4 separate regions of the Homo sapiens genome follow, and all the other regions are linked to region 3. The links come from fine-mapping of genetic effects on gene expression. A gene starts in region 3. Each other region holds a variant in brackets. All regions are shown on one strand. Distances are from middle to middle. Region 1 has its middle 31 kb from the start of LINC02324. Region 2 overlaps FUT8 (fucosyltransferase 8). Region 3 holds the start of FUT8 (fucosyltransferase 8). Region 4 has its middle 180 kb from the start of LINC02290.

Region 1 (8,106 bases), 160 kb after region 3:
CAGCCAAGTCCCAAGTGTTTTATCAGCACTTTTTCCATGGTGGGCAGCTCCCCTCACTATCTCCACTGCCCCACTCCACTGAAGACCATGTAGCCAGCCTGTACCTAGTGGAGGGCCAGGGACAAGATCACTGCACTAGAATCCAGGCTATCATCTTAGTTGTGGCTCTGATTCTTCCTTCTAAAACGGCAGGTCATCTAACCTTGCTGACTCACAGTTTTCATACCTGTGAAATGGGTATGGTCAAAGAATCTCATAAAGCTGATGAAATAATGTATTCTGAATTATAAAGTGCTATACACATGTAATGACCTGCAGCATGGTTGAGGATTTTAAGGCAGCCTCAGAATATATGATTGATTAGTTATTAAACCAATCAAAACAATGGGAGACAAAAGACCCCATACTTGTTTACTTGAAGATTATCTCCAGGCTGAAATGTTTTGGTCAGAAAGTCACAAATGAGCATGCTCAGAAGGTGCCTGTGAACTGGAAAATGCCCAGGGCTTCTGAGTAACCCACAGTCCCATTCCCCTTAACAAATGCTGTCGGGATGCCGATGAAAAACTGAGCAAGAGCCCAGCTCAAGATCTGAGGTCTGGGGACTCTGCACACCCTTCATTGTCCTTGGGTTAATCATCTGACAGCCCAACATCCAGGAGACAGCAGGCATCTGCAGGAAGGGCAAGGCGTGCTGGCCCCACAAGTGGCAAGAAGGACAGGTAAATCATTCAAAAGCACCACATGAGGCAACCAGGATCAAGGGGCAGCACCCAGAGATCAGGGTGATAAGGGAGGGCTGAGAGAGATAAGGAGCCTTGGTTGTCCCTCCTTATAGCTTCAGGTCACCTTAGCCAAGTCTCCTGGCTTCTCTTATCCTCTGGGCCCTTAACTGTAAGAGTAGGGAGTTGGTCTCAATGATTTCAAAGGTCTTTTCAGCTCTGGGTGGGAAGATACTATCTAAATCCAAGCTGCATGAACATCTGCTGTTCTTGTTTACCTCTGAGCCAAGTCCAGAAGCCCAGGAGTCCCAGTGCCACCTGCAGGGCTGTGGCAGATACAAGCTGCAGGGGACCACCAGGGCTGAATGGAGGGTGAGCTCCACGGAGGAGGCTGGGGTGGGCTGCCAGGGCCTCCTTCCTGCAGAGCAACTCAAAGATCTTTCCCGCATGTTCTTATTTGAAACTTCCCACTCTCTGGTGAGATGAGGAGGTATCGTAGCCCTCCACGTGTGACCACAAGGTACAGCGAGAAGGCTTCTGGAAATGAAAAACTAAGTTTAAGGACACCTCAGGACTTGAGATAGGAAAGAGGCATCCCTGTCACAAGGCTCTCAGGCTGCCAGGCAGGTTTTGCAAGTTTGCAAGAAAGCTTCCCCAGCACTGCTCAGCTCCCACCTTCTTTCTCCCTGTCCCACTCTCATTGGCTGGCTGGCTCGCTGCCACTCAGCCTGGAGTCAGCCCTCCTATTGTGCTCCTCTGTCACAGTGCTCCGCTGAGGCACCTGTGACAAGATAATTAAGATATTAATTTGTTTACTGTGTTTTTCCATTGCCGTCTTTTCCCAAGCAGGTACTACAAGTCAGCTTTTTTGGTTTTTCTTGCCTTACGAATCCTTGCAGGACAGAAAGCAGAGCTGTTTGAAGATAACAGATCTTCATGCCTTGGGTAAAAGTCCTGGCTCCTGATGAGATGATGCAGATACCCAGAGGGAGATAGGCGGGAGGGGGACAGGGAGAGGGGAGCCTTGAAGGACAAGGAAAGACAGAGGAGAGTGCTCAGAGACCAGAAAGATAGAAACCAAAACAAAACAGAAAACCTGTCTCACTCTGAGAATGGAGCCCTTTCCAGAGCCCCAGGAGACATCCAGATCTCGGGGAAATTTTAGGCCTTGGGCATTGAGTCTCCAGTCTCACCAAAGATTTCCTGGGCCCCATGTATGACTCAGCAACAGCAAAATCAACAAACCAGAAGGGATGTGAGGCATCAAAGGAAAACTTAGGGCAGATCACCGGCTGATGACTGGTTGGGAGGCCCCCACACTTTTGCCCAGGTAGGCACAATATTTCAGGGGAGAGATTGCACTTCCAGAATGACAGATTAATAATCTGCCCAATGAACAGGACTGGGGGCTCAAGGTTAGATTCATTTTGATTTAAAAAACGGAGGCTGGGCGCAGCGGCTCATGCGTGTAAGCCCAGCACTTTGGGAGGCCATGGCGGGTGGATCACCTGAGGTCAGGAGTTGGACACCAGCCTGGCCAACATGGCAAAACACTGTCACTACTAAAAATACAAAAAAAAGCCAGGTGTGGTGGTGCACATCTATACTCCCAGGTACTCAGGAGGCTGAGGCAGGAGAATTTCTTTTTTTTTTTTCTTTTTCTTTTTTTTTTTTTTTTTTTTTTTTGAGACACAGTATCGTTCTGTCGCCCAGGCTGGAGTGCAGTGGCACGATCTTGGCTCACTGCAACCTCCGCCTCCTGGGTTCACGCCATTCTCCTGCCTCAGCCTCCCGAGTAGCTGGGATTACAGGCACCCCCACGGCCAGCTAATCTTTTTGTATTTTTAGTAGACATGGGGTTTCACTATATTGCCCAGGCTGGTCTTGAAATCCTGACCTTGTGATCCACCCACCTTGACCTCCCAAAGTGTTGGGATTACAGGCATGAGCCACTGTGCCTGGCGAGGCAGGAGAATTTCTTGAACCTGGGAGGCAGAGGTTGCAGTGAGCCGAGATTGTGACATTGCACTCCAGCCTGGGTGACAGAGCAAGACTCTGTCTCAATACATAAATAAATAACAAAACAGAAATACAAACAAAAGACAGAGAAATCCAATTTTCCTACCTCAGCTGGGTTGTAGAGTCTCCCCTGACATGCAGAGAAGAATGAATGACCCCTTTGTCCTGGTCCCCCCAGCCTGTGAAGATACCAGTTACACCTCCTTAGTACCCAAATCTTAGCTCTAAGCTCCTACCAGTTAATGCAGGAAATCTGTCCCATACTCTCTGTTGGTTAGGATGCCTTAGCCATAAGTAATAGAAAACACAGATTCAAACATGTAAGGAAATGTATTATCTCATATAATAGTTAGTCTAGAAGTAGTGGGTTCCAGGTGTGGTACGATGAGTGGCTCAAGGTGTCCTCAAGGAGCCAAGCAGCCTCCATTTCTCTGCTTTTCTCTCCGCAGGACATTGGCTTTTTCCTTCAGCTGGCTCCCTTTGTGGTAATACGACGTCTGCACCAAACACAATAACACGCAGAAAAAGAAAGCTTTCGTGTTTTTTCAGAAGCATGGAAGCTTTTACCAGCAGTCTCCTGTAGAATCTTCTTTTTGTACCATTAGCCAGAATTGGATACATGCCCATTCTTTAGCTAGTCCCTCCCAAGGGGAATGGAATTACCATGGTTGATGTGAAGGGAAGCTAAAGAGTCAACCTCAAAGAACACTTCAAAATACTTCCATCTCCCAAATACAGCCTTGCTCACTGTGAGTTCACAGACACCTTCTCGCCCCATGGCTGAGTTAGGTTCCTTCTTCATTTATGTTGAATTCCCTCTTTTGCGTCCTTGTATCCCTTTCTTATAACCTGAAAGGCTCTCATGCTTATCAGTTTATGAATCACTAATGTGAATGCAGCTCAAGATTTTTTTTCCCAGGTCCATCTCACGGTGGGTCCAGTGGATCCCCAAAGACATCCTGTGATTATTTCCCCAGTTCCAGAATGCATAATTGAAATGGATACACTCAGCAGCTG[A/G]CAGATCCCCACATTGGTTCCCTGACTTGTGGAGGAAGGGCTATTCTGGTGGGAAAGGCCAAGTGGAAGACACTAGAACTGCCTCTACCTAGGAAAAGAGTAAGCCAAAAGCAATACTTAATTCCTGGAGGGACTGCAGAGAGTAGGGCCATCATCAAGGAGGCAGGGGTGGCAATTCCCACCACATTCTTATTCCACATGCCCATTTGGCCTGTGCAAAAGACAGATGGAGAATGACAGTGGATTACTATGAACTTAACCAGGTGATGATTCCCACTGCAGCTGCTGTACCAGATGTGGTTGTATTGCTGTTGTGGTTTTATTTCGGATGTGGTTTCATTTAATGAGACTTCTAGGGGTCCAGTGGTATGGGGCATGTCAAGATATCTCTTCTAAGGTGAAGGACACCTTGTAGCATCTGGCCCCTCCTACAACCAAAAAAGAGGTGCAATGCCTAGTAGGCCTCTTTGGATTTTGGAGGCAACATGTTCCTCATTTGGGTGTGTAACTCTGCCCCATTTACCAAGTGACTTGAAAAGCTGCTGGTTTTGAGTGGAGTCTAGACAAGGAGAAGGCTCTGTAACAGGTCCAGGCTGCTATGCAAGCTGCTCTGTCACTTGGGCCATATGACCCATCAGATCCAATGGTGCTTGAGGTATCAGTGACAGATAGGGATCTGTCTGGAGCCTTTGGCAGGCCCTCATGGGTGAATCACAGTGGAGGCCTTCAGGATTTTGGAGCAAGTTCCTGCCATCATTCACAAATAACTACACTCCTTTTGAGACAGCTCTTGGTCTGCTACTGGGCCTCAGTAGAGACTGAATGTTTGACCATGGGCCACCAAGTTACCATGTGACCTGAGCTGCCTATCATGAACTGGGTGCTATCTGACCCACTAAGCCATGAAGTTGGATGTGCACAGCAGTACTCCATCATCAAATGGAAATGGTATATAGGTGGTCAGGCTCAAGCAAGTCCTGAAGAACAAGTAAATTACATGAGGAAGTGGCCCAAATGCCCATAATTCCTACTTCTGCTTCACTGCCTCCTCTCTCCCAGCCTGCACCTATGACCTTGTTGGGAATACCCAATGATCAGTTCACAGAAGAAGAGATCAGGCCTGGTAATAGTTCTGCACAATGTGCAGGCACCACCCAAAAGTGGACAGCTGCATCATAACAGCCCCTTTCTGGGACATCCCTAAAGCAGTAGTCCCCAATCATTTTAGCAGCAGGGACCAGTTTTGTGAAAGACAATTTTTCCATGGAAGGACGAAGGTAGGGGTGGAGGGATGGTTTCGGGATGAAACTGTTCCACCTCAGATCATCAGGCATTAGACTCTCATAAGGAGCACACAACCTAGATCCCTCGCCTACACAGTTCACAATAGGGTTCATGCTCCTATGAGAATCTAATGCCACTGCTGATTTGACAAGAGGTGGACCTCACCCGCCACTCACCTCCTGCTGTGCTGCCCGGTTCCGAACAGGCCACGGACCAGAACCATTGGTTGGGTCTGCAACATGATCATCCTTCAGTTCCCACTGCTCCAGCAAAGCTCAGTGGGCACCAGGGACCCAGGAGGCTGCTGCCTCACGTGGGCCACCTCTAGCACTACAACCCAGGCAGGAGCATCCCAGAGCAAAACAGGCACCTGCAATTGGGGGTCCTCAAGACAGGGGCTCTCCAGGGTCCCAGGGGCAAAGGAGCAGGATCTGCAGCCTTCAAGGGCAATAAGAGAGATCTTAGAAGTCTCCTGTGTCTCCTCTTTGCTTCTACCTCTTGGAGTGGGCAGTTCACTTGGAGTATGCAGTCATCTCAGCCAGGGCAGCGATCTCTTCCCTCTTCCATTAGGAAGAATTCCCTTTACCACTGTCCTTAGGACAGAATTTTGGGCAGAGCACTTGGTTGCACAATGTATTTGGAAGGAGAAATGGCCAGACATGTGGTTATATACTGATTCATAGTAGCCAGTGGTTTCCTGGATGGCCTCAGACTTGTAAGGAACATAATTGCAAAAGTGATGACAAATAAATTTGGGGAAGAGTATGTGGATAGACCTATCTGATTGGGCAAAAGATGTGAAGATATTTGTTTCCCATGTGAATGCTCACCAAACAGTGACCTCAGCAGAGGAGGATTTTATTTTTATTTATTTATTTATTTATTTTTGAGATGGATTTTCGCTCTTGCTGCCCATGCTGGACTGCAATGGCGCGGTCTCAGCTCACTGCAACCTCCACCTCCCGGGTTCAAGCAATTCTTCTGCCTCAGCCTCTCAAATAGCTGGGACTACAGGCATGAACAACCACACCCAGCTAATTTTGTATTTTTTTTTTTTAGTAGAGACAGGGTTTCTCCATGTTGGTCAGGCTGGTCTCAAACTCCCGACCTCAGGTGATCCACCCGCCTCAGCCTCCCAAAGTGCTGGGATTACAGGTGTGAGCCACTGCGCCTGGCCCCTTTCATTTATTTATTTTTCTGAGACAGGGTGTCACTCCGATTGCCCAGGCTGGAGTGCAGTGGCATGATTTTGGTTTAGGTTTACTGCAGCCTCGACTTCCCCAGGCTCAGGTGATTCTCCCATCTCAGCCTCCTGAGTAGCTGGGATGACAGGCACACACCACCACACCCGGCTAATTTTTTTTGTATTTTCAGTAGAGACAGGGTTTCACCATGTTGCCCAGCTGGACTCAAAACTCCTGGCCTCAAGCAATCCACCCACCTTGACCTCCCAAAATGCTGGAATTACAGGTGTGAGCTGCTGCACCCTGCCACAGAGGAGGATTTTAATAATCAAATAGATAGGATGACTAATTCTATGGACACCAGTCAGCCTCTTTCCACAATCATCCCATCATCACCCAATGGGCTCATGGATAAAATGGCCATGGTGGCAGAGATGAAGGTTATGCATAGGCTCAACAACATGGACTGCACTTACCAAGGCTGATTTGGCTACAGCCACCACTGAGTGTTCAATTTGCCAGCATCAGAGACCGACACTGAGTCCCTGATATGCCACTGTTCCTCCAGCTAAACAAACAGCTACCCGGAGGCAGGCTGATTACATTGGATGGCTTCCATTATGGAAAGGGCAGCATTTTGTTCTTATTGGAATAGACACTTTGAATATGGATTTGCCTTCCCTGCATGCAATGCTTCTGCCAAAACTACTATCCGCAGACTTATGGAATGTCTTATCCTCCGTCATAGTATTACACACAGCATTGCTTTCAATCAGGGAGCTCACTTCACAGCAAAAGAAGTGCAGCAGTGGGCCCATGCTCATGAAATTCACTGATCTTACCGTGTTCCACACCATCCTGAAGCAGCTGGTTTGAAAGTACAATGGAATGGCCTTTTGAAGACTCAGTTACAGTGCCAGCTCAGCGGCAATACTTTGTAGGTCTGCAGCAAGGTTATCCAGAAGGCTGTATATATGCTCTGAACCAGAGTCCAATGTATGGTGTTCTTCTTCCCATAGCCAAGATTCACAGCTCCAGGAATCATAGAGTAGAAACACCCACTATTATCACTAGTGCCCCACTAGCAAAATTTTTGCTTCCTATTCTCATGACCTTATGCTCTGCTGGCTTAGTGGTCTTAGTTCTGAAGGGAGGAATGTTTCCACCAGGAGACACAACAATGATTCTATTGAACTGGAAGTTGAGACTGCCACCTGGCCACTTTGGACTCCTTATGCCTCCAAATCAACAGGCAAAGAAGGGAGTTACTGTGCCGACTGGCATAATTAATCCTGACTACCTAGGGGAAATTGGACTGCTACTCCACAGTGGAGAAAAGGAAGAGTTTGTCTGGAACACAAGTGATCCCTTAAAGCATGTCCTGTGATTAAGGTCAATGGAAAACTACAACAATCCAATCCGGGCAGGACTATGACTGGCTCAGACCCTTCAGGAATGAAGGTTTGGGTCACTTCAAAGGTAAAGAACCATGCCATCTGAGGTGCTTGCTGAAGGCAAAGGGAATACCTAATGGATAGTGAAAGAAGCTACAACTATGTGACTGGTTACAGAAATAAGGACTGTAATTTTTAAAAATTTATTTATATATTTTATTTATTTATTTATTTATTTATTTATTTATTTATTTATTTATTTATGTGAGATGGAGTCTTGCTCTGTTGCCCAGGTTGGAGTACAGTGGCACCATTTCGGCTCACTACAACCTTCATCTCCCAGGTTCAAGTGATTCTTCTGCCTCAGCCCTCCAAATAGCTAGGACTAGAGGCGTGTACCACCACGCCCCGCTAATTTTTGTATTTTTAGTAGAGATGGGGTTTCACCATGTTGGCAAGGCTGGTCTTGAACTCCTGACCTCAGAT
Region 2 (8,106 bases), 22 kb before region 3:
AAGTTGGCAGCTGGAAAAAATGATAAAGAATGGTAAAGCTCTTCCTTTAAATAGACTTCTGGGAAATACCAAATACTTCTACTGACATCTAACTGACCAGAATTTAGTCACAAGGTAGTAACTTGCTACAAGAGAACTTCAGAAATTTGTTCTTTCAGCAAGTGGCAATTGGGCCCTCTATCTAGGTTTCATTAACTTGAGAGAAGCAGAGAATGAATATGTGAGGGGAAAAAAAAAACTGCCTAATTTCTGTTGTAACAGGTCAAAGACAAGAAAGGCAGATGAAGGTAACATGTGAATGTAAACTTTCCTTCTCTAATCTCAAGCTACAAAATGGCTAGACTGAAATATTCTTGATATATTCTTACTTGAGAGAGGAAATGGACAAACAACTTTTGATTTTACTTTAGACAACTTCTTATCCCCTCTCTCCATATTATTATAAAAGCCCATATGAGAAGTAAAAGTGTGAGCCAAAATAGTTTGGGTCAAAGTTTTAAAACCTCTTTACTATACAGAGGTATGAAACCAACATGTCCAACAAACAGAAAACACCAAAGCAGAAATAATTTAAAATCAAAGAAAAAAAATCACTATCACTATAAAGACTCTTCTACAGTTAAGACTTCTACATTACTTCCTAGATCCAGAAACTCAGGCTAAACTCCTCTTCTTTACTCCCTACTCCATTGCTTGCTAAACCTCTCTCCTTGCATCCATAAAGCACATCTAATCTCCTTGGTTCTCCTTCCTTGCTGTTTTAAGGATTTTATTGTAATCACTATGGGTAATAACAAAAAAACATTAAGAAATTATGAAGTTTTTAAAACCTTATAAAATACTCTGGGACCTCAAATATTCTCATTTTACTGGGAAGAACTAATGATGTCAAGTAATATGAATTCATGTACTCTAGTCCCAAAACAGTAAATTGCATTTCTACGACCCTAAACATTAGGTGACGTATTTCAAAGTCTTTCTTTAACACAAGCATGACATGGAGATGGCAGTGGTGGTGTTAGTGGTGATAAGACCAAATTAAGACCTTTGGAGGTCCCAAGTACAGAAAATATAATAGTATAGCCCTCTATTCTCTCCCTATTAAATACAAAATAAAAACAATACTAAACAGCTAACATTTAATCCAATAAATTCTTATTTCTTTCCTAATTCTACTTCAGTATTTTTTTAAATGTTAGGTAGTAAATGCTTTCAATTGTTTTTCAAATTCTTTTCTTTCTGCTTTGCTGATACCCTAAGCTTTTGTTTGATAAAAAGCTGTGGCTAATCAGTACTAAGTGCTAATAAACAGAAGTAAAAGCAGTTGCAACTTGAAGAGGTCTGCTCTACATCAGATATTTTACATGCATTATTTATAATTCTTGTCACATCTATAAAAAGGAGAGATTATCAATCCTGTTTTGCTGATAAAGAATGAACTCAAAGAAGCTAGACAAGATGCCCAAGGTCACTCATGCAGTAAATGGCAGAGTTGAGTACCTGAAATAGGCCTTTATGTCTCCCAGGTCTGATCCATTAGACATACTGCCTGTAGGGCATTTCTTCAGAACTAGCTCCTGGACAAAAATTTCATTTCAGAGAAACATTGAAAAATGCTTTTTAAATGCATCATTTGGTAGTACTCAAATTTTCCATGGAACCTAATCACTGATAATCCTAGATAATAACTGTAAATATATAGCCCAGACTGCTACACTGCACAACTCCAGTAGGAAAAAAGAAAAAAAAATTTTATGTGAATGATGTCCCCTGGAATTGTGTGATACAGTTGAGTGTGCAACCCCAATGCTTGTCAAAGACCTTGTCAGGGCCATTTACTATTCTATTTTGGAAAAAAACTTTTTTTTTTTTTTTTTTGAGAGGGAGTCTCGCTCTGTCGCCCAGGCTGGAGTGCAGTGGCACGATCTTGGCTCACTGCCAGCTCCACCTCCCAGGTTCACACCATTCTCCTGCCTCAGCCTCCCCAGTAGCTGGACTACAGGCGCCCACCACCACACCTGGCTAATTTTTTGTATTTTTAGTAGAGACAGGGTTTCACCATGTTAGCCAGGATGGTCTCGATCTCCTGACCTCGTGATCTGCCTGCCTCAGCCTCCCAAAGTGCTGGGATTACACGTGTGAGCCACTGTGCCTGGCCACTATCATTGTTTTTTAAAGCCAATAAGCATTCTCGGAATGTTAAAGAAAAGTTTTTGTTGTTGTTGTTTTGAGACAGGGTCTTGCTATGTTGCCCAGGGTGATCTCAAACTTCTGGGCTCAAGCGATTCTCCTGCCTCAGCCTCCTGAGTAGCTGGGATTACACACTTGTGCCATCAGGACCAGCTCAAGAAAGATATTTTACAGCCTGGGCAACACAGTGAGACCTTGTCTCTACAAAAAAATTAAAAACTAGCCAGACATGGTGGCACACACCTGTGGTCCCAGCTTCTCGGGAGACTGAGGTAGAAGAACTGCTTGAGTTCAGAGTCGTCTGAGGCTACAGTGAGTGATGATCACACCACTGCACTCCAGTCTGGGTAACACGGCAAGACTCTGTCTTTTAAAGAAAAAAAAAAAAAAAAAAGGGAAGATATCTTAAAGCACACGAAAATAAAAATACACCAAAAGTCAATTGTAAGAAAATGCAAACTAAAACCACATGATATACAACTATACACCTATTATAAGAGCTAAAATTAAAAAAAAAAAAAAGAAAGAAAAAGGAACAGATACTACCAAGTGCTAGTAAGGATGTAGAGCAACTGGAACTCTCAAACATCGTTGGTGGAAATGCAAAATGGTACAACCACTTTGGAAAACAATTTGGCAGTTTCATACAAAATTACACATATGCTTACCATATCATCCAGCAATCTGCTCCTAGGTATTTACCCAAGTGAAATGAAAACTTATGATCACACACAAAGCTATACATGAATGTCTATAGCAGTTTTATTCATAATTGCCAAAAACCAGCAATAAGCTAAACGTCTTTCAACAGACAAATGGATAAACTAACCATGGTACATTCATACCACAGATTACTACTCAGCAATGTAAAGGAACGAACTATTGATACACGCAACATAAATGAATCTCAATGAATTTTCTAAGTAAAAGAGGCTGATCCAAAAGTCTATATAACTACAATGTCACTTACAGTTGGCCCTCCATATCCACTAGTTCCATATCTGAGAATTCAACCAATATGGATAGAAAATATTATAGTAAAAAAAATACAACAAAAATAATACATATAAACAACATAACAACGATGTATATAGTATTTACATTGTATATTATATTTAGCGATGACTGGAGTACCAGGAGGATGTGTGTGTATATGTAAACACTAGGTCATTTTACATAAGGGACCTGAGCATCTGTGAATTTTAGTATCTGAAGGGGTTTTGGAACTAATTTCCCTCAGATAAGGAGTGACAACTGTGTATGACATTCGGAAAAGTAAAATGGTAGCCATAGAGAATAGATCAGTGTTTTCCAGGGCGATGAACTTAGGGGGAGAGGTTAACTACAAATGGGCAGCAGGAGTTCTGTGTCTTGATTATGAGGGTAGATACATATTATATGCATTTGCCAAAATCCATAGAACTGTGTATCGCAGTGTGGATTTTAATGTATTAATGCATAATTTAAAAATGAAAAAAGTTGTATAAAAAATAAAGGAAATATGCCAAATTGGGATAAAAGAAAAAAAAGGTGGGGGGGCTTTTCACTACCAGATCTACAAATGGTTATCCTCTGGAGATAATACAGCTGCCTCCACTGAGCTGTAAAGATAAAATGTAAAACGCTTAACACAGGCTTACCACACAGTAAATTCTTAGTTTTGAATTCTTAAATTCTAGTTCCCTTCCCTTTCCCTGCTTCTCTCTCCTATGTAAGTATTTCTCTTTCACTGTGTCTACTATTGCCTTTTCTTTCTTCTGCCTCTGAAATGGCTTTACATTGTTTTTGCTACTTCAAATTCCTTTTCCCTATTTCTCTGGTTAACAACATCTATCCTCTGGGGAACTGACACTACCCCCGATTTGTGTGGTTCTGATGTTAATGTCAACGACAATTCCCCACAGTGATTAGCCCAGAGATAAGCCTGTCAGAGGCCATCCTAGGGAACTAAGTTCTCAGCTGTCTGAGGCCATGCATCCTTGCCATGAAAGAAGCTTTCTAACATAAGCAGAAAATGAGGCCAACAGGAGAAAAAATAAAATGAAGCTAGAATACTCTGAAGACAGCATCTAAGTTCCTGGATCTGGTTGTTCCTGGACTTCTCCATCTCTATTCTTCCTATTTACATAGCCAATAAATCACCTTTCTGTATAAGGCATTTTAGAATTGTTGTTTTTAATGCTTCCCATTTTAAAATCACAAAATATTTGGCTTCTCTAAGGAAACAAAAATAGTAAATTCTCTCTTTACTTGCTGTGGCCTTCAGTTATTTTCAGTATTAGTGGCTACTAATATCAAGATATTACCCAACCCCACTGTAGGGCAATCACACACATTTGAAAGAGGTAGAAATAGCTGAGCCTGGTGGCACACATTTTTAGCCCTAGCTACTGAGGAGGCTGAAGCAGGAGGACGGCTTGAGGCCAGGAGTTTCAGGTTGCAGTGCTCTATGATCACATCTGTGAATAGCCACTGTGTTCCAACCTGGGCAACACAGCGAGAGAGAGAGAGAGAGAGAGAGAGAGAGAGAAGAGACAGAAGAGAGGTAGAAATAAAAGATAAAGCCACATATAACAACAGTAGACTGAGAACAGCTGCCTA[G/C]TGAAGATTTACATTACAAATAGTGAAAAACCTTCAAGACAGCTTTTAATGCAAATTATATCAGGTTTTAAATCTTCAGTGCAGGCAGTACTCACTTTTCATTACCTTACATTTTACCACTCTACTCACTTAAAGCTAGGTAATAAAGATATATGTTACTTTGTGTCATTCTGCCATTGCATGCTCTTTCACAAATTTTAATCAATATCTGAAGAAAGGCAATAGCATATGCAAATACGAAAAGCACACAACTGCAGTAAGGATTAAAGAAGAAGTCTCACAAGTTGACAACAAACACATAGCACACTCCTAATAAGCCTTTCTTCAGTTTGTCTTCCTGGAATGCCCCTACTTGTTTTTGATGCTAAGCTAATCATCACTATGTACCATATCCTACTAGAACTTCCTCTGCCACCTCACCCTTCATCATAGCAATTACTGAATTATAATTATATATTTATATGTTAGTGGTAATGAGAACCTAAACTGTTATCAAAAAAAAATGAAACAGAAAAAAGCAGATGAATGAGATAAACACTGTAGTGATAGAATTCGCAGTTTTGTTACAGGATCCCAACACTTACCCAAAGGTAGCCGTTGGGTCAGGGTTTCTGCACTATAGTCTCTTCTGTGGTTGCCAGAAATAGGTTACAGGACAGAGAAACATGTTACAGGAAAGGGGTCCTAATCCAGATCCCAAGAGAGGGTTTTTGGATTTCACACAAGAAAGAATTCAGGGCGAGTCCACAGTGCAAAGTGAAAGCAAGTTTATTAAAGTAAAGGCATAAAAGAATGGCTACTCCATGGGCAGAGCAGTCTCGGGGGCTGTTGGTTGCCTATTTTTATGGCTATTTCTTGATGATACGGTAAATAAGGGGTGGATTATTTATGTCTCCCATTTTTAGACCATACAGGGTAACTTCCTGACATTGCCATGGCATTTGTAAGCTGTCATAGAGCGGTGCTAATGGAAGTGTAGTAGTGAGGATGACCAGAGGTCACTCTCATTGCCATTTTGGTTTTGGTGGGTTTTGGCTGGCTCCTTAACTGCAACCTGTTTTATTAGCAAGGTCTTTATGACCTGTATTTTGTGCCGACCTCCTATCTCATCCTGTGACTTAGAATGTCTTAACTGTCTGGGAATGCAGCCCAGTAGGTTTTAGCCTCATTTTACCCAACTCCTGTTTAAGATGCAATTGCTCTGGTTCACAGGCCTCTGATAGTTTGACAAGCGAATGAATCTGACGGGGAATACAAAGATGATTCACAATTCAAGTTTGGATAATGGGAAGGAAAAGCCAATAATTTAAAAAAAAAAAAAAGGAAAGTAGAAAAAATACATTTTAAAAGAAAAGAAAATTCAAATTTGAGTGGGTTAAGCATGACAGCATGACAATTAGATGACAATCTCCAGCTGGAAACTGACGTTCAGGAACTTACAGTATAGGGGTCACCTGGAAGAGATTCTCACTAAAGCCAAAAGAATAGGTAACATTTCAAGAAAAAGAATCTAGAGAATGAAAAACATGTAAGGCAAATACTTGAGAAACAAGTTGACTTTGTAAATGAGCCAAGAGGACAGCAAAGTTATAAGGAGAAGGGAGGAGGAAAAGTGGTTCACAGTGTTAAATCTGAAGCAACAAGACTGAAGAATCCCCATTTGGCAATTCAGAAGGTCACTGGTAACAACAGAAAGAACAGTTTTAGTAAAAAATAAGGTAACCAAATTGAAACAACAGACATAAATTGTTTTTTTTCCTTTGGCCTGTTGCACAGTATTTAAAAATAATAATAATAAGGAAAGGTTTTTGTTTAAGCCATTAAATTGTTGCTAGGGAAGATTAAAATAAAAATGATAAAAGAGTTAATTAATGATCCTATACATTCTAACAGTAGAAGGGATAAAAGAGGTAGCCATGAAAACCTAAAGGGCATATTGCATATCCCTGACACCAAATGGGAGACAGAACTTACACAATTTAGAGAGAGAGAAAAGCAAAGCTGAAGAAGCTTCTGTTGGATAGTCTTGATCTTACATTAAAAAAAAAAAAAAAGTGAACCTACAAAGTCTAAGAGCAGTACACTGGAATCAGGCCCTAGGAAGAAGTAGAGTGGTGGCTCACGCCTGTAATCCCAACACTTTAAGAGGCTGAGGCAGGCAAATCACTTGAGGCCAGGTGTTCAAGACCAGCCCAGGCAATGTGGCAAAACCCAGCCTCTACAAAAAAAATACCAAAAAAAAGCCGGGTATGGTGACGCATGCCTGTAGTCCCAGCTACTCCAGAGGCTAAGGCAGGAGGATCACCTGAGCCCAGGAGGTTGAGGCTGCAGTGAGCTGGGATTGCGCCACTCCCCTTAGTCTGGGCAACAGAGCATGACCCTGTCTCATTTGAGAGAAAAAAAAAAAAAAAAAAAAGGCCGGCGCAGTGGCTCACACCTGTAATCCCACACTTTGGGAGGCCGAGGAGGGTGGATCACCTGAGGTTGGGAGTTTGAGACCAGCCTGACCAACATGGAGAAACCTTGTCTCTACTTTAAAAAAAAAAAAAAAAATTAGCCGGGTATAGTGGCGCATGCCTGTAATCCCAGCTACTCCGGAGGCTGAGGCAGGAGAATCATTTGAACCCGGGAGCAGGAGGTTGCAGTGAGCCGAGATCGCGCCACTGCACTCCAGCCTGGGCAGCAAGAGTGAAACTCTGTCTCAAAAAAAAAAAAAAAAAAAAAATTAGTAGAAAAGGTCTGAAATAGCCCCTATAGGAAGTGGAAAAGAATTGCCAATCAATGCAACCAAGTATTTTAGAGCACATTTTCTCATTAATTGCTCATCTCATTTTTTACTTAACTTGTAGGATACAAATTCTTCAGTCTATTTGATCTGATATCCCTTTTTTAAAGAGAGCTTTCTATATCCCATCTAATGATGTTCTGTACGTCTACTTTTCCATTGTAAATTACCCCATCTATTCTTTGCTATGTTACAAAACTTTTAATTATTCTTCCTGCTTTAATGTGGTTCTAGTCTTGCTCTCATGCTCTGTACAAATATCAAAGTAGTATTTGATTACACAAGAAATCCTTAATGTCTATTTTCTTAAAGACAAGTATTCAAGAGAACTATATAAAGAAAAGGAATTCTAAACCTAGAAATGGCTATATCTTCTGACGGCTGCTCATTTACTATTATGACTAAAAATAAAAATTCCCCAGGAAAATATGAACGATGATCTTTAATATTTTGAAGCTTCAGAACAGAAAAAGTGTCTCTTTTCATTTACATTGACATTTTTCCAATTACACAACTCATATTTCAGTATT
Region 3 (8,106 bases):
TACTCTTATGATTGTAAAACTTTCTTTTATATTTATCAATTTGCTATAATATGAAATGATGTATCCACCATTTAACTAAATCAAGAGATTTATTAAATGCAGTTTATCATAAATCAAAAATAACCATTAATGAAATGGAAGAATCTATTTACTTTATCAGCATTGAGATTCTATTTACATAATGAAGAGCTATGGATAATAAACAGCCCAAACACTATCTGCAAAAAAACCAATATTCCAATGATTTTAATATACATATAACTATCAGTTTCTAGGCTTGGATTTAAAGAATATGTGAATGGAAAGAAGTAAATTAACATACTAATTTATTACAGCTTAGAAACCTAAATGAAATGCCACAGGCCACAAAACAACTGCTTCGTATTCAAAGGCACACATTCAATTTGGTAGATCAGCTGGACGCACTGCATTATACTGCAGGAGATAAGGGTTAAGTGACCTGGGGATATTGTTCTCCAGATGTCTAAAAGGTCCATTTTTTTATTGGAATTATCTCTACTTTAAAAAAAAAAAAAAAAGGAATTATATCTACTTTTGATAAATACCTAGCTTACCACACAATTAATACCTTCGCCCATATAAGATTCTACTTGAAGCTTCGTTTTTGAAATTTTAGGATTGTAGCTATTATAAAAACAAAATTTAAGAACACACAACATGTACAATGGGTCAAGAATACATGCCTTAGATTCTGATGAACAGGACAAGAAGGTTAAGAAAATACTATAACATACTCTAAGTTTGGGGGTACATTTTAGAGATTTTTAAGTGAGAAATCCAATAAATCTTTAAGCATTTAGCTTTCCATTATTGCAGCGCATGAAAAGACTTTTTTAAACTAATTTGTAATACACAATATATTCACTCCACAAATAACTATGTACATATATATGCCCACATCAATTTCCTACTCTTTTAATTAAAAATTTATGTTTCTTTTGGTCATAAAAATCTGGTTTTGGGTGTTTTAAAAGTTCAAACAGCTATTAAGCTATACTTTGCTTTGGCACTAGCTCCCCCTCCAGACCAATGTACTAATATAACAGCATTTTTAAAAATAATAAGTTAACAGTTTTTTCCAATCCACTGGCAAATTTTAAGATTCACCACTTTTAAGGACACTCCAATTGCGTAAAAATAACTGGTAAGAATTTGCAACAAAACAATGCAGGATGTAATCAGAATTAGTTTTGTTTTGTTTTTTTCGATTCCATACATCTTAAACAGAACTGATTTGTAGGAAAACAACTTCAGGTGACTTTTTAAATTCAAAAATATCCTCAAAATATAACCTATATAAGGCCGTACTTTATGGAAATTATTTTGAATCACTATCCTATTACACAAGACACTCTTCAAGTTAACTCACAACTTGACCAAAGATACATTTTTGCATCTGTTTCTGCAATCTATGCAAGTTTCATTCCAGCTGTTCAGCTCTTGAATTCAAATAGAATTCTCAATTTATAAGGCAGCAAAAAGAAAATCCATGTCTTGGAACTACCTTTGTACGTGTCTTATAGCCTATTCATCTCTAACTCCCTGCATTTTTTACACACTAAACCTGTGAAATCACAATTACAAATGCTTGAATTCCCACCTTTTCAATACTACTGTAGTATTTACAAATCAAGTAATTAAGATTTTCTATACACATACCAGATTTCACAAGGACAGCAAGGTACAGGGCCTTATTATTTGGCATAGGGTTTTAAGATGTTTTTACAGTTATTTTAAAGAGCAGAGACTACAACTCCATTATTTCTCATATATCTGATATACTGTAGTGCTTAAATAATAATTTCTCTCCTAAAATACTTTCTATATGATGCACCTATTTAAAGAATTAGTCATAAAACATAGAATGTAAATTTAATCAAGAAAATAAACATGCACCTAACCGCCGGAATAACAAGAAAAAAAAAATCTATAATGAAACCTGCCTACAGTTTTCATAGAGGCAAGCCAGTTAAGTCAGTTACTTGAGATGCGTTTAACTCTAAACTGACACAAAACTTGTGTTGAATTTGTTCCGCAAAACCTTGAAATTTGGGGTTATGTACTACAGAATTTGGCTTTTCTGGGTCCACCTTCCTGAGTGGGTTTAAATAAACTGTGAATAATTAAAACATAGGAAGGAAAAAAACACCACCTGTCCGTGCCTTTAACCAAGGCCTCAATCTATATATTATATGGCAAAATGCTAAAATAAAAGCTCATCCGGGACAAACCCTAAGCATGACACTGCCACTTAAGAAATACACTGCGTCTCTGAAGATTGCAATCCCCACTGTGAAGAAAGAACAGGTGCTGCACCCGACAACCCACTCAATCCTGCAGGACAAACCTCCTAGAACTGATAAATATGGACTCATTTAACCTTCCCAAATAAGTTGATACTCAAAAGCCGCCAGCTCGTCATTTGCACATCAAAAGGGAGTACAGCTGCACTCAAGCCTTTAACTGCCCTGCATCAGTCCCTCGCGGATCTTTGTGAGGGTCCACTCCCTGCTTTCTAGCCCGAGCAGCACTCAGAAAGAGCCCATAACGCACGGGCATCTTCCTCCCCACAAACCGCGACTCCAGGGACCGAGCTGCTGACGAAGGGAAGGTAGGTGTGGAGGGGAAACGACGGACACCTCCCACCCCCGCCCCCAACCCTTCTCCTTCCCTAGGCTTTGGCCCCTGCCCTAGGCAAGGATGCGCGACGCCGAGGGCAGCAGCGGCGCAGCTCCGCGTCCCGGCTGGAGAGGCGGGCGCCCCTCACCCTCTGCCCGCGCCCCCGGGGCTGCGCCAAGGCATCCGCCAGAGCGTCCCGGGGGCTCCCTCCCCACTTTTCCGAGAGCCGCTGGTTAACCGGCAGCAGTTGCAGCAACAGGCCCGGGTGAACGAGCAGGGACAGCCGCGGAGCCTCCTCAGATCCCGCGCGCAGCCCAGCCCAAGACCCCGAGGCGCGCGGGGCCCGGCTCCCAAAACGCCCCCTTACCCCAGGCGGGAGCAGAGGCGGTCTCCGCCGCTCCCCGTCGCAGCTGCCAAAGCCACAGCCCTCAGCCGCAGCTGCCCCACGATGGGGGAGTGGGAAGGGTGGCTGAGTGGAGGATGCTACTCCCGACCGAACGGAGAGGAAGAAACGGAAACAGGAACCGCCGCCGCCGCTTAACGGAGCCTTCGGCGCCACTGACTGAGGCAGAGCGCGAGGCGGCGCGAGCCGGGCAGTCGCTGACAGCGCGAGACCGAGAGCGAGCTGGGTCCAGGGCGCGCGACCCTGAGCAGTGCCGGCCCCATTCCGCGGGGAGACGAAGGGACGGGTCGGCTGGGGCCAGGCGGCGGGGGTGGGATGGGGAGGGGGCCTGGAGAGGAGGGAACCGGCTGCTCGGGTCGGCCGGAGATAACGCGCGCACGCGCCGGAGCGGCTCTGACAACGAGCGCAGGCGGGGAAGCCTCGGCCAGCGCCGGCGTGCGCGCGCGAATGGGGGAGCGCGCCCCTCGGCGTTCCTGGCTTCTGGGAGAGGGCGCGCATGCGCCGGCCGCTGCCACCTACGGCGACCCTGGCATGTGCCAGGGATTCTCCCCGCCCCCTTCCTCGCTGCGCCGGTGGAGAGCGTAGCAGCAGCATCCACCGCCTAGCAGAGCCGCGGGCCACAGCGGGACGGCACAGTTCCAGCAGGGCAGCGGCTGCGCACGCCGGCTCCGGCTCGCACACAGGCGTAGGCCGCCCTCTACCGCCTGAAGGCCGGAGGCTGAGCGGGGCGCGAGCGGATCCTGGATCCCGGGAGGAGACTCGCCTCCAGAGAATGCTGTGCTCCCTACAGCGCCGGGAATGGACCGGCCCGTGCCAGCTCAGTCGGCGGCCCTAGGGGGCACCCGCACTAGAGGTTTTGAAGCTGGCTCCTTGCTACTTTTAGGGGTGCGCGCTGCTGCTGCTCAGCCCCTGCAGCCCGCATTTGGCCGCTTGACTGCTGCTTCCAGCGCGATCCTACAATGGCATCGCTCCCCCAGGAGACTCAGCGAAGCCCTACTTTATCTTGTAAGAGCTGTTTCCACATTCACTCGAAGAGAAAGACCCCCCCCACGAGGGCCTGAGTTCGATGCCCGGCCTCTCCCGACCCGCGGCTGCGACAGCCCCTCTGAGGCGGAAGTTTATTTAGTACGGGAAAGAGAACAGCACGGGGAGAGGGGAGAGGCTTTGCCCTAGGATGCGTCCTACCCGCTCGGACTCGGAAAATTCCCGGCGCCCGCGATGCAGAGCAGTGGACCGAAGGGCTGCCCCAGAGCAGCCCAGACCGCCAGCTGAGCGGGAGGACCGGAGCGCGCCGCCCCAGCACACAAAGTAGTCGCGGGACGAGGGGTGCCGCCGAGGCCAATCAGAGCTGCGCGCCGCGTGAGTGGAGTGCGAGCCGGCCAATCAGAGGGCCGGAAGATGAGCTTCCCGTTCCAAACTCTTCCCTGTAGCCTTGGGACCCAGATCCCAAGCCTGGGGCGCTTTACGGTGGGAGAGCGAAATGGTGCCCTTAAGACAAGAATCATTTCTCTAGGCTTGGGCATTTTAAAGTACATACCGGGGATACTTATCCCAAAGCAAGTAGCGGCGGCCTTTTAGATGTTAAATATTAAAAGATCACAGAAAGGAGATTTAAGAGGCAGTGGCCTGTCAAGGTTGCAATCTGCCTAATATTCATAAATTCACATATTTATTGAGACCTTCTTATGTACCAGGAACTCTATCACAGATACACAAATAAGGTACTGCTGATTCAAAAGAAAATCCCTTGTCCTCAAGCAGCTCAGGTTGTGAGGGAGGCTTTCCTAGACCTTGAGACTCGTATTTATTGTCAGCTCTTTAAACAAAAAGCACTCTATGAAGTGCTGTACTTTACAGTCGTTTTTATGATTATCTCCCTGTGAGAAAAGAAAATTGAAAGGAAAGTAGAGTGACTTGTCCAAGATCACACAGAAGATGTACTAGCAGAGCCAGAATTATGTTCTAGCTCAGTTTGGGTGTCATCATTCAATAAAATAATTCAATAACAATTTGTAAATGCATGGATGCTCTCTCCCATGAGATTTCTGTACTAAACGTATAAGCAGGACAAAATTCTGGTATAAAAGTGACACACTTTGGTTGTTGGAAATGAACACAAATTTTAGACTTATGTGGGATTAAAGGTAAAAATCTTACCAGTCATACTTTAGATAATTTTTAGAAGTCAGAGGTGGGGTGGATATTTACTTCTTAGTTTAAACACAGCATTTTAAAAATATTTTAACAAGCAAGCGTAACTTTTTTTTTTTAAGATAGAAGAAGCAGGAAGGATCACTTAAGCCCAAGAGTTCCAGGCTGCAGTGCCACATCGTGCCTGTCAGTAGCCACTTCAGCCTGGGCAACATAGCAAGACCCTCATGTCTAAAATTAAAAATAAAATTTAAAAAAAAGAACTACTTCTAGTTGGTTAATAATCATGATAGTTTACACTGTATAATACTTTGAGATACCCAAGTACAAAGCTTTACATTTGCCTAAAAATTCCATTTTTGTCTGGTGTTCCATTTTTACTTCCAAAATCCTAGGAATTAAAGCACTTATTTTCCCTACCTCCTTCCAACTGAAAAAAAAAAAAAAAAAAACCTGTCCTAGGAATGTTTTGCCCAGGATTTGGTGCATTTGTATAGAACAGTATAATATACGTTAAAATAACAAATAACTTTGGTATCTCTTGAATACACTCAGAAACTAATTCTTCAGTGGTTTTGAAGTCTGCTTTGTTGAATCAATGTGCTTCTCCACCTGTGATGGAACATTATTATCAAAACCCTTTCCAAGGCAGGCTCAGGATTTAGCTGCCATCCCAAAACTGGAGGTCTCTGTCAAACAACTGATATTTGAGAACAAGTCTTTACACATTAAGTTCCAAGCCAATCATGAATTTCCAGGAAATTCACTTATGAAAGGGAATTTTATACCCTGCCTCTTCTCAGTGTGGATAACAGTCCCAGCTTTTAAAAAATACATTTATTTTACTCTCTCCAGACAAGAAAATTCCTAGAACTCAGTCGTTCTCTTGCCAGGTTAAATTCTGAGAGAGAAGGAATCCCCCAAAAGGTTCTAAACATCACTGGCCATCAGAAAGTATCTGTGTCAAAAGCATTTTTCCACAAGCTGCAGGTCCCACCCTGTTGCTGCGCTCTCTCATTCTCTTCTCCCAACTGCTTGCCTCTGCTGCTCATCACTGCCAGTTTGTAATAGTTGCTTAAGTAAGTACAGGTACTCCACCTCTTACTCCACCCCTCCCTCACCAAACTAGGTTTTGGACCCATCTTTGCTTATCCCAAAAGTTAAAGACAAGTTCTGTTCAACAAAAGATTAGACAGAACAATCGTTATGATCTGTTATACAACAAGTAACAGGGCCTTGTCAGTGCATTGTTTTCTTGTATATAGCCTCGGTCAAATTCTTAACCATCAGCTAGAGCTATGGGGACTCGGGTGTCCCGGGGCAAGAAGGAGTCAACCCTTAGACTATGGAAAAGATCAAAATGAAAGTTAAAGTGAGTACATGAGTGGCCATTTTATTGAGAGATTAGCTAGATCAAAGTTAATGAACGTGAATGCTATCACATTTCCTAAGTTGTGAACATTCATGTAGAAACTGGTTTGAAATTTACTACCATTTTATTATGACTGTAATAAAAATAATAGCCAAAGTGTAATAGTGCTGAGCACCAGGCCTCATGCAAAACTCTTTACCTCCACCATTTAATTCTCAAATCAAACCTTTGAGGTGGATCCTGTTATTACGGTGGGGAGATCTGTGGAGTTCCAGCAAGGGGTTGAGGCACTCAGAAGGCTTAGCATAAGCTACTTACCAAATAGTTTAGAAATTTTTCTATCTCTACCAACGTGTACCAACTGACTGTCAGCCATGGAAGCATTCTGAATAATTGTTAATTGTTCTCGTTGTTTTATAATTGTTGCTCTAGCTACATTTCACTTACAGGATCCGATTTTCCAGGAAGTCATCCAAAGGGCAGCATTGTTATTGCCAAGAGCAAGAAGGGGTGACCTTGAGATAATCATTTTACCCATCTGGGCCTCAGTTTTCTCATTTGTAAAATAAAAGGGTTGGACTAGGTAAGTTTTAGTTGTTCGTCAGTTCTAAAACTATAAATCTAGCCAACTTGACACACCATTGACAATAACTACAAAAATGAAATATAGGGAAAAAAAGTCTATATTTTCATTTTTATTTTTTAGAGACAAGGTCGCAGAATGTTGCCAAGGCTCGTCTTGAACTCCTGGCCTCAAGCTGTACTCTTGCCTCAGCCTCCTGAGTAGCTAAGAATCTATATTTTCAAATTCAATGTGTTTTAAGTCACTTTTGAGCCAGCTCCTTAAACAAACTCTATACCTACTCATTAAAAAGCCAGAGCAAATCTTTCCCATTACAAGAGTAAATGAAGTGATTGATTTAAAGACTGATGAAACTAGCCAGACTATCCCTCCCTATGACTTGCCTCCATGGCTGAAATTTCTGTCTTCTCCACTGGGATAAAGCAGCATATAGTTCACACTATTGATTTCTAATTGAACATTCACTCCCGTCCTTCCTTATTAATAGGGCTGTTTATTTTTGTTTTCATCTGCCAATTCTTTAGGTAACCACCCAAAACTCCAACTACAGAAAGGCAACTCAATTAGCCAATAAATGGGTTCCCTAATATGGTAGGAGATTTATCATGCTTACTCTCTCTTTCCAGACATACAAAAAGATTATATTTTTCCACACCCACCCCCAGATACCCTCCTCCCCTTGCAGTTGGGCTGGACCATGTGACTGACTAGCTATAGCCACCAGTCTGTAGTGGGTTGTGGGCAGAAGTGGTATGTGTCAATTCCAGGTAGAACAGTTCATGGCCAGCGTAAGTCCTTACAGTGTTTACTCTTCTCCAGACTCAAGACCAGTATTATCTTGAAAGTATCGGTAAAGCCTCTCTCGGCTTAACTTCCAAAAAAAAGGACAAGGTAGAGCAGCCTGCCTCCCATTTTCATCTGGTTTTAATAAGAAATACACCTTTGTAGTTTAAGCCA
Region 4 (8,106 bases), 520 kb before region 3:
TCCTGAGTAGCTGGGACTATAGGTATGCGCAACCACACCCGGCTAATTTTTGTATTTTTTGTAGAGATGAGGCTTCACCATGTTGACCAGGCTAGTCTCAAACTCCTGACGTCAAGTGATCTGCCCGCCTCGGCCTCCCAAAGTTCTGGGATTACAGGCATGAGCCACCATACCCGGCCCACATTTCCTTCTATTATAAGGACATATGAATCTGGTGGTGGTGGGGAAGGACACAATGCAGCCCATACTAAAGCCTCTTACATATGAAAGTCCAGATGCTCCCACAGGAAAAAAGGAGAAGCTGCTGTTTGACACTGGTGCCCAGGGGAAGTGTCTTGGGGTTCTATCTGTCCTTACACCATTAGTTACATGCACTTGCATTGCAACCCCCCGGGGGTAATGTTGCCCCTGTGATAACCATAGGATCACCTTTCTCAGAAGCCAGAGCTGATCTTTCTAATGTCAGGTAATGTCAGGCCACTGGCTGACTTCCCAGAGCTGACAGGTCACTTGCTCCCCAACCTCACAAAGGAGAAAGGCAAGAGAACTTCCTCCCCAAGAGCCTTGGACAGTCCTGGCTGGTCCTTCCTCAGTCTCTCTCAGCTGCAGAAGCACAAGCCAAGGCACTAAGGAGTTAGTATCAGAAGATCCCGTGATGAGCCTAGTCCATGAAACTCCTTCCAATATGGTGCAGAGGCAGGGCTGGTCCTTGGCAACACCTTCAATAGTATCCTTTTACATATTTGCCTCCCTCTTTGAACATCCTCTAATTTCAAAATCGTTCAGGGCTAATGCCATAGTGGACGGGCCTCCATGATTCATATGCCCAGGTGATTCCTACTTTTTAAGAGACTCAAGTGTATGTTGGGGTGGGGTGGGGTGGGGTAGGACAAAACCAATCCAAAGGAGTTAATCTCTAATGCTGGAATTTCAGATACTAGGAAATTCTAGGTTAGGAAACTATTTGAGAAGTAGCAGAACCTTCCTTGGCCATTCAAATCACCTCTGGACAAGAGATACTGATGTTGGCTACAGTATTCCTATCATTCAAAAGCTACCACTTCCTCTGTGGAACAACTCTTGTCCAAAAGGGACATCAGTGAGAGGGGTTAGGATCTGACTTCAGATGATGTTGACTCCAAGTTATTGATTCCAGGCTAGGGAGCAAGCTAGACAGTGACCGTCTCCAATAATGAACAGATGAAGTGAATCAGTGGATTGGTGGGAGGCTAACATGAGGCTCTGGAACTCTGCCACCTGAGTTCCAGTTCTGGGTCGGCCACGTCCTTCCTGCTATACTCTCTATGCCCCGTTTTCTTATTTTAAAATTGGGATAACAGTAATGTCTATTTCATGGCATTGTTAAGGGTTTTAAATGAGATAATACAAGTTCTTAGCATAATGCCTGACTTTTAACAAGCTCCCAGCCAATGTTAGCCGCTGTCATTCCCAAGGGTCTACCAAGTCAGAAGGCCTGAAATCAGGCAAGAGCATGGCAAGCTTGCCTCTCTTCAAAAGTGATGGAGATCTGCAGGAAGAAGGACCCATAATAAGAATTTTTTCTATTAATACAATAAAATATAAATATGCAGAATGAGTATTTATTTATTTTTGAGATGAGGTCTCAACTCTGTCACCAGGCTAGGGTGTTGTGGCATGATCTTGGCTCACTGCAACCTCCACCTTTCAGACTTAAGCAATCCTCTGACCTCAGTGTCCCGAGTAGTCGGGTCCCCAGGTGCATGCCACCAGACCTGGCTAATTTTTTGTAGTTTTGATAAAGACAGGGTCTTGCATTTTGCCCAAGTTGGTCTCGAACTCTTCAGCTCAAGTGATTCCCCTACCTGGACCTCCCAAAATGCTGGGATTACAGTCATGAGCCACTGTGCCCACCCAAGCATTTAAAAATACATAATGCAGAATAGTGGAGGCTTTTCAGGGCAAAATGGAGACAGGCTTTAAAAGGCAAATGCTGATTTTGAATTCCTGGAAATACTGTGAAGAGATGAGGTGAACGCTATCCAGGGGCTTTAGCATTGGGAGGTGATGGTGAGAATAAGAAGGAAAATTAGCCAGGAAAATTTTAACCTTGAAAATCAGAGCCCAAAACAATGGGTCTTAAGTTTTTGGGGATCACAAATCCCTCAGAGCATCTGATAGCTATAAACATTCTCCCCAAAAACCCCTCACATTCACATAAAACTCTAGATATAATCCCAGGGTGACCCTGGACTCCCTAGATCCTGAAGGAACCTGTGACCCCAGATTAAGAATCTCTTATAGAAGGAAAAGCCCACAGATGACATGGCTTGATGTCAGAGAAGATCTGGAAGCATGCGCATAAAGCTCAGACACTGAGCCCGGCCAAATGGGCCCTAAGGAAGCCACCTGGGCCATAGCCCCAGCCTGGCCATGTAGAATGTATATCTGAAAGTGGCCCCCCTGTGGCTATAGAGTTATGTGGACACCTACCAATGGTATGTGCTGGACTCCAAGGACCAAGGTGGGCAGTGGGGTATAGTTGGAGTTGGGGGACAGCAGGGAAGGAGCAGGGAAGGAGCAGAGCAGCCCACGGCAGCAGTCATTTCCCTTTGGTGAAGAAGCCCTCCCCCTGTAAGTAAAGGGAAGTCAGGGAAGTGTGACCTGAACTCAGAGAGGAAGGCTGCAGACCTCACAATGGTGTGCCTGCCACCGCTCTGCAGATCTGTTGGGTTCCTAGAAGTCGCCCTGGACCCCATTCTCTCCCCGCCCTGCTTTCTGGTTATCCCACACATCATCTCCCTTTTGCCTCCTTCCCACCACCCTGGCCCTCAACAGTCACCCAGACTCCTAGGAGTCGCATCCCCACCATCGCTGCCCCTTTAGCCCTCTGGGATTTATGATCCACGCTGCAGCCAGAGTGCTCTCCAGAATCACATCCAGCTTCCTGCGTGCAGCTTCAAAGCTGTGTGGTGGGCGTGTTCCCACCCCCCAGCCACTTCTCTTGACCCCACCACCTGATGGGACCCATTGGCTGAGCACCCTGTGGTCCAGCTCCCTTTCGACCCCCCAGGGCTCTCAGCCTCCCCAGCCCCAAACCCTTTGCCTGGCCAACTCTACACATCATTTAGGTCACTTGTCGCCTCCTTTAGGAAGTCTTTCCCAGCCTCTTCTCCACCCCGCAGCATCTCTTACCACTACCCTAAACTCCAGCCAGAGGGACTATGGTCTCTGCAGTCCCCTCTAAGCACTCTCCTGGGCTCCAGGCCATTCCTCCTCCTGCCTCAGCTCAGCTGGTGCCACTCCCTCCAGAGGCCTTCAAAGCCTTCCAGAGGGCTAGGGCTCCCACATGCGCTCAGCTCCTGGCTTTCTCCCTGCAGAGGTCTTGCCTCACCTGTGGGCTACATGCTCTTTCCCAAAAGGGTCTGTGCCTTGTTTACTTGTCCTGGGTAGTATTGGGTTGTTGTGAGGATGAATGAGTGGCATGTAGGTGAAGCACTTAGAACAGTGCCTGGAAAACATCAGGAGCAACTGTTAGTTCTATTATTCTTATTGCTGTTATCATCACCATCATTATTATTATCATTGACTGCTATAACCCCAGTGCCTGATATAGGGAGATATCCAATAAGTTTTTGTTGAATGGATGGATGGAAGGATGGATGGATGATAAAATTGTGTATTATTGCAGTCATCCTCAGTGCTTTTTATTTTCGTTTCAATGCCTTTTTTAAAAATCACTTCGTGTTCTTCAAAATATCCTGGGGAGGATTCTGGATCTGGCAAACCCTGAGGCTGAAGTGTAGAAAGACCATCCAAGAATCACGCCAGAAGGGGACAGAATGCAGCAATCCAGGTCCTTGCACCCCTCTCCTTCAGGATTCACCTTCCAGGAGAGTTTGAGAGGTCTACCTCTCAGATCAGCATTGGGAGGAGATGGGGAGAATTTCAGGACCAAAGAATGGGGTCCCATTGTGCTTCCTGAGTCTTCATGCTCTACTACTGCTGCCCAGGGCAGGGGGTGGGGGCCGTGATTGAGCACATTCAATCCCACTGAGATTTCATTAACTTGCATTCATTTGTGTCACTTAATTATTGTGAACGGGATCCTTCTCTAATAAATGTGTTTTCCTAACCCACAGCCTCTGGGCTATCATTCTAACCATATCTATTATGACTGAATGGCTTCTTGGAAACAGAGTGGCCTTCTTTGTATTTGGAGCTAAGTAGGGCATACTAAAGAGCTTCCCGCCCTCCAGAAAAGGGGGGTGGACAGGCAAGGACTCCGTGCTCTGGGGACCCAGCCTCCCGCTCCTTCATTGTGAATCACCTGCTGAAATAAAGGATCTGGAGCCTGGTGTGTTTATACAGCAGCGCGCCAGGCGACAGCTAAGGTGTTACAC[C/T]GCAGCCTTCCAGGAAGGGGCAGGGGCCTGCTTGTGGGTTTAAATAACACGGCAACTGAGAAAGCTTATTCATCTTGATCTGTTGGCCTCATCAGTGAAGTGAAGGTGCTGAGATAACATCAAGCGAAAAGCAGCCCCACCCTGGGGGAAAATTTAGATCCTAGGTCTTTCTCATGAACATTCCTATTTAAAAGGAATTCTGTGCCTGCGCAGGGTTTTGTTTCCCTCTGCAAACTCCCTCTGTTTGAGTTAGAATTCTTCTTTCCTCTCTTGCCCTCCAAAATAGATCTCACTGGGCAGCAGAAGCTGGGTTCTTAAAAACAAGCAATTGTATTTAATTGCAAACTCCACAAACAAATGAGCAGCTGTATCTGTATTGATGAATGAATGTCTTTTGTCTTTACAGATACTTTAAAAAATGCATAGTCAACAGAGAACTGTATGCTATTTGGGAAATAGATTTACCTTCTTAATTATATTTTTACTTGTCCTTAGATTAAAATTAGTTTGCTTTGCCTGAGCTGACACTGCCTTGGGTGGTGAGAGATGATTAGAGAGAATCCTGCGGGGAGGAAAAGCTGATCTGATATGAAATATCTGGGGCCAAGGTCCTGTAGGGGGATGGTCTTTGAGGACTCAAAGAGCTGAGGGTTACTTGGGGCTCCTTTCCCTCAGTTTTACAGAAGGTACTTCTGGCTGGCAAAGATGTCACTGATCAGTTTTCAGGAGGAATTATTGTGGCTCACTGAAGAAGGTGTCTCTCCAAACTCACAGATCCTAATGATCACTTTATCAACAGAGAAATGAAATCTAGGATGGGGTCTCTGTGCTTGGCCGGAGACCCTGCATCCTCTTTAGCCAGGATTCTCTTGTGGAGATAAGGAGCTTCATCAGTAATTGTGGATCTTACTAACTCCACCCAGCTAAGACTTGAAGTTCTGGTCTAAATGAGCAACAAACATTGAGGTTGTTGGGGTTTTACAAGCCCTCCCAGCCCTTGTGCTGGCAAAAGAGGAAGCCTGTGCATGAAAGCCAGACTTTGCCATAGCAATGATGCAACTCCATGAGTGGAAGAACACCAGGGTTCTTCGTCTCAAGTCGAATTAGATAAAATAACACGGACACACGTGGAGTCGTTTTAAGGACTGGAGAGTTTAATAGGTAAGAAAGAAGGGAAAAGAAAGAAAGCAGCAGCTCCCCTGTACAGAGATGGGGGGGGTAGGGGGCGGCTCCAAAGCGAGAGAGGGGACCCCAAGTACGCAGAAACCAGCCAGGTATATGGAGAGGCTGGAGGAAGCAGTATCTGATTTGCATAGGGCTCAGAGGATTGGTTTGACCAGGCATGTCATTCACGTAGCCCTTGAAAAAACTGACTCTCCCACCCTAGCCTTTTAATATGCAAATACAGGGCGCCATAATGTTCTACACACGTGGGGATATGTGGGGGCAGCCATGTTGCCAGGAACATGTGGGGCAAGGGGAAGAAGGAGGCAGGCAGCAGGAATCCTCTTGTTGGGGTGGACCCAGTTTCTAATGGCCAACATTTGCATATGAAAGATTGCCTGCCCAGCTCTAAGAGCCAGGGCTTTCCTGCTAGACAAGAAATGTTTCTGGAGCTGCTTTAAAAGAGATGAAAACTTTCCAAGGACCGCTTTTCCTATCTGCCTAGAACAATTTTTAATACCTCCTATCGCAGCAAGTCCCCATGTAGTGGGACAGCAGAAAGTGTGTTCAGCAAGGAAGAGGTGCTGTGCCTTACTTCCAGCCTCACCTGCATAAACCTTCTGCTCCAGCCTTCATTCTCTCTTATCCAATGTGCTGGCCTATTAGAAGATCTAACAGGTAGAGACACTAAAGAAGGTTCTTTTGTGTATGCAAGACTGATCATGGAAAGCCTCTCATGAAACACCAGGTGTGAGCAAAAAATAAACTTCCGTTGTGTTAAACCACTGATATTTGGGAATTCGTCTGTTACAACAGCTAGCATTACTTAACTAATAAATCTTCATATTTAGGAAGTAATAGGGAACAGCTTTCTCTAAGTTATAGTTTCTTCCTCCCTTCCAATGACCCATATCTTGTATATACAAAGATGTCTTTGGAATGAATGGAAATTAGTTCATTAGTTCTAGAAAACACAGAAGTTAAGTGAGAGAGAAGTTTATCTCTTCCAAGAATATGTTGAGAAAAGGAAAGCAGATGAAAAGCATCTTGAAAGAGATTTTAAGCTTCTTAGTTGGTAAGAGTGATATTATAAGCCTCTTCTTTATAGTGCTTCCAGTATGTATGGAAAGTGATGAGTGGTGAGAAGTGGCATTACCATCTTATAAAGGAGAAACTGAGGCATGGTGAATGCTTTGCTGAGAAATCCTTCAAATCAGACCTGCTGGGTTTGTGACCCCCCATTCTACCAGCTTAATGAGACTGTGCAAATAAGACCAGTGTTATAGCCCTATTGAGAGACAGGACTAGCTGGATTTCCTAGGCCAACTAAGAATCCCTAAGCCTAGCTGGGAGGGTGACCACTTACACCTTTAAACACGGGGCTTGCAACTTAGCTCACACGCAACCAATCAGATAGTAAGGAGAGCTCACTAAAATGATAATTAGGCAAAAACAGGAGGTAAAGAAATAGCCAATCATCTGCTGCCCGAGAGCACAGTGGAAGGGACAAGGATCGGGATATAAACCCAGGCATTTGAGCTGGCAACGGCAACCCCCTTTGGGTCCCCTCCTCTTTTATGGGAGCTCTGTTTTCACTCTATTTCACGCTATTAAATCTTGCAACTGCACTCTTCTGGTCCATGTTTGTTACAGCTCGAGTTCACTCGCTGTCCACCACTGCTGTTTGCCACCATCACAGACCTGCCGCTGACTCCCAACCCTCCGGATCCGGCAGGGTGTCCGCTGTGCTCCTGATTCAGCGAGGTGCCCATTGCCGCTCCTGATAGGGCTAAAGGCTTGCTATTGTCCCTGCACGGCTAAGTGCCCGGGTCCATCCTAATCGAGCTGAACACTAGTCACTGGCTTCCACGGTTCTCTTCCGTGACCCACGGCTTCTAATAGAGCTATAACACTCACTGCATGGCCCAAGATTCCATTCCTTGGAATCCATGAGGCCAAGAACCCCAAGTCAGAGAACACAAGGCTTGCCACCATCTTGGAAGTGGCCCGCCACCATCTTGGAAGATGCTCGCCACCATCTTGGGAGCTCTGTGAGCAAGGACCCCCGGTAACACTATCAAAGGAAGTAGGTGGCTGGGTGCAGTGGCTCATGCCTATAATCCCAGCACTTTGGGAGGCTGAGGTGGGCGGATCACGAGGTCAGGAGATCGAGACCATCCTGGCTATCACGGTGAAACACCATCTCTATGAAAAACACAAAAAATTAGCCAGGCATGGTGGCGTGCACCTGTAGTCCCAGCTACTCGGGAGGCTGAAGCAGGAGAATCACTTGAATCCGGGAGGTGGAGTTTGCAGTGAGCCGAGATTGTGCCACTGCACTCCAGCCTGGGCGACAGAGCAAGACTCCGTCTCAAAAACAAAAACAAAAAAAAGTAGGTTAAAAAAAAAAAAAGGAAGTAGGTGTCAGATTCTCCTCTACAGTAATCCCCCTTATCCATGGCGTATATGTTCCAAGACCCCCATATCCTGGGGGTCTGAAGTGCCTAAGTTTTAGTCTGGATGACTGAAACCATGGATAGTATTGAAACCTATATATATA

The links.
Region 1: its variant is fine-mapped to the expression of FUT8 in whole blood (TOPMed, PIP above 0.99).
Region 2: its variant is fine-mapped to the expression of FUT8 in whole blood (INTERVAL, PIP above 0.99).
Region 4: its variant is fine-mapped to the expression of FUT8 in whole blood (TOPMed, PIP above 0.99).

The regions. Positions count from the first base shown.
Region 1 is chr14:65,248,991-65,257,096 of GRCh38, reverse strand. No RefSeq gene overlaps it. Among named protein-coding and RNA genes, the nearest start is that of LINC02324, 31 kb to the right of the region's middle. RefSeq lists an enhancer at 1,123-1,624. The variant A/G (reference allele first, on the strand shown) is at 3,759.
Region 2 is chr14:65,430,401-65,438,506 of GRCh38, reverse strand. The region is part of intron 1 of FUT8 (fucosyltransferase 8); the gene reads right to left. Among named protein-coding and RNA genes, the nearest start is that of FUT8, 22 kb to the right of the region's middle. The variant G/C (reference allele first, on the strand shown) is at 4,792.
Region 3 is chr14:65,408,116-65,416,221 of GRCh38, reverse strand. It overlaps FUT8 (fucosyltransferase 8), which reads right to left and starts at 3,492. Exons shown (of 11, transcript NM_001371533.1): 1 at 3,008-3,492. FUT8-AS1 (FUT8 antisense RNA 1) reads left to right here and starts at 3,605. Exons shown (of 1, transcript NR_024334.1): 1 at 3,605-5,630. RefSeq lists enhancers at 2,187-2,751, 3,994-4,313 and silencers at 2,674-2,863, 2,874-2,993, 3,294-3,453.
Region 4 is chr14:65,924,387-65,932,492 of GRCh38, reverse strand. No RefSeq gene overlaps it. Among named protein-coding and RNA genes, the nearest start is that of LINC02290, 180 kb to the left of the region's middle. RefSeq lists an enhancer at 2,958-3,495. The variant C/T (reference allele first, on the strand shown) is at 4,383.